2 separate regions of the Homo sapiens genome follow, and region 1 is linked to region 2. Evidence: fine-mapped expression QTL. Tissue or cell type: blood mononuclear cells. Region 2 holds a variant in brackets; the other region holds the start of a gene. All regions are shown on one strand. Distances are between the middles of the regions. Region 1 holds the start of PTPRH (protein tyrosine phosphatase receptor type H). Region 2 holds the start of TNNI3 (troponin I3, cardiac type).

Region 1 (3,000 bases), 51 kb before region 2:
AGAGTCTTGCTCTGTCACCCAGGCTGGAGTGCAGTGGCGCTATCTTGACTCACTGCAAGCTCCGCCTCCCAGGTTCACACCATTCTCCTGCCTCAGCCTCCTGAGTAGCTGGGAGTACAGGTGCCTGCCACCACAGCCAGCTAATTTTTGCATTTTAGTAGAGATGGGGTTTCACCATCTTAGCCAGGCTGGTCTCGAACTCCTGATCTCAGGTGATCTGCCCACCTCGGCCTCCCAAATTGCTGGGATTACAGGTGTGAGCCACCGCGCCTGGCCATTGTTTTGCTTTCTGAGACAGGGGCTCACTCTGTCACCCAGGCTGGAGTGCAGTGGCACAATCGCAGCTTACTGCAGCCTTGACTTCCCAGTCTCAGGTGATCCTCCCACCTCAGCCTCCCGGTAGCTGGGACTACAGGCGTGCACTACCATGCCTGGGTAATTTTTTCTCTCTTTTTGTTTTTCTTTGTAAAGATGGGGTTTTGTATATTGCCCGGGCTGGTCTCAAACTCCTGGGCTCAAGTGATCCTCCCACTTCAGCCTCCTGAGTAGCTGGGCACACACCAATATGCCCGGCTGGGGTTTCTATTCTTCATTTCCGCACTATATGTGAGATGAAGGCAGTCCACGTGTGCACATAGTAAGTCAACAAAAACACCTTGAAAAGCCCTGGGTGTCAGGCCCCTTCTGAGCACAGGTGGCCTAGGGATGAACTAAAAATAAACATGACTAATATTTATCAACTGTTTAAAATGGGCCAGGCATTGTTCCAAGACTTTCCACGTAGTAACTCATCTATTTCTCTTAGCATATTTACAAGGGTGCCCATTCTTTAGAGATGAGGAATCTGAGTCACTGTGGATTTAAGTCATTTGCTCAGGGTCACAGATGGATATGCAAATTAGAGAGTCTGGGGTGTGGAAGACAGTGCACAGGGTCCTGACCAGGCTAGAAAGGCCCCAGGCCCGGCATGGGTCATTTCCAAGCTGAATCCTAATGGAGCAGTGGGTAGGAGACTGTTAGGGGGAAAGTAGGCAGGTGCATCTGGTGGGGGAGACAGTCTAGGCAAAGGCCAAGAGGCAGGAGCCCGCTGGGCTCATTTTGTGAGAGCTGCAGGGGCTTGTGGGAGACGGAGAGGGGAAAGGCGTCAGAGGCTGAATGGAAGAGCGTGCTCCAGGGACGAGGGGCATGAGGTCTAAGCCCCAGGCTGCTCTTGATGTGTGATCACCCACCAGGGAGGCGAGGGAGTCAGCTGGCCTTTCTCTCAGCACCCCCTGCTCTCATCCTCTGCCCCACGTCCCGCATCCGTGCAGCAGTGGGGCGCGGCACCCGGTACCTGGGGTGCAGAGGGAGATTTCGGGGGACAAAGTGGAGTGGGCTGGGGGCTGGAGAAAGGATGGGAGGCATCTCCAGTGTCAGAGCTAGAGGCAGCGGTGAGGGAGGAAGGTGAGGGCCAGCGGGGCAGGGTTGGGAGCTGGGTTCCACTTCCTCCTCCTCCCCTTCCCGCCCTGGCCTCTGGCTTCACCAATGATCTGGTAAAGGGGAAATTCTTGAGTGTAAAGTCCAGCAGGTGGAAGGACTAGGCCTGGGACTCCTGGGTCCCCGGCAGTGTCTGGAGGCATGGCTGGGGCTGGCGGGGGCCTCGGGGTCTGGGGGAACCTGGTGCTGCTGGTAAGTGCTCCCCGCCCAGAGCGGGCTCCCAAGGCAGGGACTCCCAGGTCTGAGGGAGAAGGAGCTGGGTGCCTGCACCTCGATCTTGAGGAAGTAGGTGCTGAAGATCCCCTGGAGAAGGAAGAGGGCTTCAGGCTTGGCAGAGACTGTAGGAGAGTCTTACACCTGGGCTCTTAGATACTGTCGTGTCTGCTGCGGGGGACACCAGCTTCACCCGGGCCCTTAGACATTGTCGTGTCTGTTGTGGGGGACACCAGCTTCACCCGGGCCCTTAGACACTGTCGTGTCTGCTGCGGGGGACACTGGCTTCAGGCAACACACAGCTGTGCTCACGGACAGGAAGCAGCCCCTCCTCCCTCAAACCAAGAGTCCAGACCCCAGCCCCTCCTCCCTCAGACCCAGGAGTCCAGGCCCCCAGCCCCTCCTCCCTCAGACCCAGGAGTCCAGACCCCAGCCCCTCCTCCCTCAGACCCGGGAGTCCAGGCCCCCAGCCCTTCCTCCCTCAAACCAAGAGTCCAGGCCCCCAACCCCTCCTCCCTCAGACTCAGGAGTCCAGACCCCCAGCCCCTCTTCCCTCAGACTCAGGGGTCCAGACCCCCAGTCCCTCCTCCTTCAGGCCCAGGAGTCCAGACCCCCAGCCCCTCCTCCCTCAGACCCAGGAGTCCAGACCCCAGCCCCTCCTCCCTCAGACTCAGGAGTCCAGGCCCCCAGCCCCTCCTCCCTCAGACCCAGGAGTCCAGACCCCAGCCCCTCCTCCCTCAGACCCGGGAGTCCAGGCCCCCAGCCCTTCCTCCCTCAAACCAAGAGTCCAGGCCCCCAACCCCTCCTCCCTCAGACTCAGGAGTCCAGACCCCCAGCCCCTCTTCCCTCAGACTCAGGGGTCCAGACCCCCAGTCCCTCCTCCTTCAGGCCCAGGAGTCCAGACCCCCAGCCCCTCCTCCCTCAGACCCAGGAGTCCAGACCCCAGCCCCTCCTCCCTCAGACTCAGGAGTCCAGGCCCCCAACCTCTCCTCCCTCAAACCAGAGGTCGAGACCCCCAGCCCCTCCTCCCTCAGACCCAGGAGTCCAGACCCCCAGCCCCTCCTCCCTCAGACCCAGGAATCCAGACCCCCAGCCCCTCCTCCCTCAGACCCAGGAGTCCAGACCCCAGCCCCTCCTCCCTCAGACTCAGGAGTCCAGGCCCCCAACCTCTCCTCCCTCAAACCAGAGGTCGAGACCCCCAGCCCCTCCTCCCTCAGACCCAGGCCCCCAGGCCCCCAGGCCCTCCTCCCTCAGACCCAGGAGTCCAGACCCCAGCCCCTCCTCCCTCAGACTCAGGAGTCCAGGCCCCCA
Region 2 (2,500 bases):
AGGCCCCCAGCCCCTCCTTGCTTAGACCCAGGGGTCCAGGCCCCCAGCCCCTCCTCCCTCAGACCCAGGAGTCCAGACCTCCTGCTCCCTTCTTTCCCCAGGACCCAGACTCCAGTTTTGCCACCCCTCCTCCCTCATTGTCTGGGATCCCAGAGCCCCATCCTCCCTCCGGATTTGGAGCTGAATCTCAGCCTGTCCTCCGTCCTCTCTGCAGTATGGTCCATCTTCTCATCCCTGAGCTTGGGGCCTGTGTGGCACCCGGAGGGAACTTGATTGTGGAATTAGCCCGGTGAGTCAGTGGGGTGGAGGGTGGGGAACATCCTGGCTGGGGATCAAAATCTGGGTCCCTGACAGGGCGCTTCCCATCTGCAGGTACCTGGTGGACGTGCGGCAGGAGCAGCTGCAGGGATTCAACACCCGGGTCAGGGAGCTAGCTCAGGCAGCTGGATTTGCTCCACAGACCGGGGCCAGGCCTTCAGAGACCTTCGCACGTTTCTGCAAGTCCCAGGAATCAGCTCTGGGCAACACTGTCCCAGCTGTGGAACCCGGAACTCCGCCCCTTGACATCCTGGCCCAGCCTCTTGAAGCCAGCAACCCAGCCCTTGAGGGCCTGACCCAGCCTCTGCAGGGTGGGACCCCACACTGTGAGCCCTGCCAGCTGCCCTCTGAGTCTCCAGGTTCACTCTCAGAGGTTCTGGCTCAGCCTCAGGGGGCCTTGGCTCCGCCCAACTGTGAGTCAGACTCCAAAACTGGAGTCTGACCCAACCCCTAGACACCCCTTATCTCCAACTTCCAAAGTCAGGTTGTAGGATGAGAACCCGCTGATACCATTCTAAGTCCGCTGCTAGAGTCCTCAATTTTATTCTAATCATTCCCACTCAGTACCCGCCACCCCCACCCCGGGAGTGTTGGTAGACTTTCAAATTCCATTTCTGAGATTCTATGGTCTATTCCTAGAATTCTAGATTGTTCTCTCAGAATTCCAAATTCCACTTCTGAGGCTCTAAGCCCAGCCTAGGATCTGACACTGAGTCTCAGGCCCTTGACTTTGGCCCCCTTGTTCCCAGGCACCCTGTGGCTGACTAGGGGCTGGGGTGTCTCCTCACCAGGGCCTGGTCAGCACCCAGATGGTTCAAGTAAAGCAAGTTGTGTCCACCCTTCTGTGTGTCCAAGCGTCTTTCCTGTCCTATGTCCGTCTCCAGGGCTGGGAGAGAAAGGCCCAGGAGTGCTGGACAGAGGAAGCCAGAAACCAGATTCCTGGGTTTCCAAGTGGACGAGGGATGGATTTCCCAGTGCTATTGACTGAGAGCTAGCCCC[G/C]AGCACAGCTGCATCCTCAAATTAATCAACAACATTTATTGAGTGGCCTGGACTCCTGGGTCTGAGGGGAGAGGGATTGGGGTCCTGGACTCCTCGGTCTGAGGGGAGAGGGATTGGGGTCCTGGACTCCTGGTCTGAGGGAGGAGGAGCTGAGGGTGCAGACTCTTGAGTCTGAGAGAGGAAGTGTGCTGGGGGCCTGCCTGGACTCCCTTGTCTGAGGGAGGGGCTGGGGGCCTGGACCCCTGGGTCTGAGGGAGGAGGGGCTGGGGGCCTGGACTCCTGGGTCTGAGGGAGGAGGGGCTGGGGCCTGGACTCTTGGGTCTGAGGGAGGAGGGGCTGGGGCCTGGACTCTTGGGTCTGAGGGAAGAGGAGCTGGGGGCCTGGACTCTTGGGTCTGAGGGAGGAGGGGCTGGGGGCCTGGACTCTTGGGTCTGAGGGAAGAGGAGCTGGGGGCCCAGACACTTGAGTCTGAGGGAAAAGGGGGCTGGGGGCCTGGACTCCTTGTGTGAGGGAGTGGCCAGGGTCTCCCAGGGTCCTGGGACTGAGGGAGGAGGAGGTTGGGAGGTCGGGCATTCTCTGGGTCTGAGGGAGGAGGGGTCTAGGACTCCAGGATCAGAGGGAGGAGGGTCCGGATTCCTGTGCCCGGAGGTGGCTGGTGATCCAGCTGGAGCAGGGCCCACCCCGCCCCTCACGCGCCCCCGTTATCTGGCATAGTGGGCAGGGGGAGGAGGAGGTGACAGTATATTTAGTCTGTGTCCTCGCCCTTTATCTCAGTGTCCTCGGGGAGTCTCAAGCAGCCCGGAGGAGACTGACGGTCCCTGGGACCCTGAAGGTCACCCGGGCGGCCCCCTCACTGACCCTCCAAACGCCCCTGTCCTCGCCCTGCCTCCTGCCATTCCCGGCCTGAGTCTCAGCATGGCGGATGGGTGAGTGATGCCCCAAGGCAGTGGGAGTTGGGGGCGACCTCCCGGGTTCCCAAGAGGGGTCGCAGCTGAGAGGCTGGACCCTTGGCCTGCGAGGTAGGCGTAGGGACTCTTGGGTGAAGAGAGGAAGTGGGTTTGCGAGTCAGACTCCTGGAACCCAAGGAAGGGGAAGCGCGGTCCCCCGACCTCTTGTTCAGAGGGGACTCCAGGGGTCCCTTAGGAGACAGGACACAGCCCACCACTAACCCCCCTCCTTGGTT

What was found. PIP is the estimated chance that this variant, and not a neighbour inherited with it, causes the effect. A credible set is the group of variants that fine-mapping cannot tell apart.
Region 1: it holds the start of PTPRH, and the variant in region 2 is the best candidate, but not a certain one, in a credible set for the expression of PTPRH in blood mononuclear cells (TOPMed, PIP 0.72).

What each region holds. Positions count from the first base shown.
Region 1 is chr19:55,208,051-55,211,050 of GRCh38, reverse strand. It overlaps PTPRH (protein tyrosine phosphatase receptor type H), which reads left to right and starts at 1,550. Exons shown (of 20, transcript NM_002842.5): 1 at 1,550-1,668. The coding sequence starts at 1,618.
Region 2 is chr19:55,157,322-55,159,821 of GRCh38, reverse strand. TNNI3 (troponin I3, cardiac type) reads left to right here and starts at 2,090. Exons shown (of 8, transcript NM_000363.5): 1 at 2,090-2,243. The coding sequence starts at 2,233. DNAAF3 (dynein axonemal assembly factor 3) reads left to right here. Exons shown (of 12, transcript NM_001256715.2): 11 at 215-289; 12 at 373-1,157. The coding sequence ends at 760. It overlaps DNAAF3-AS1 (DNAAF3 antisense RNA 1), which reads right to left and starts at 513. Exons shown (of 4, transcript XR_007067345.1): 1 at 377-513. RefSeq lists an enhancer at 2,312-2,500. The variant G/C (reference allele first, on the strand shown) is at 1,318.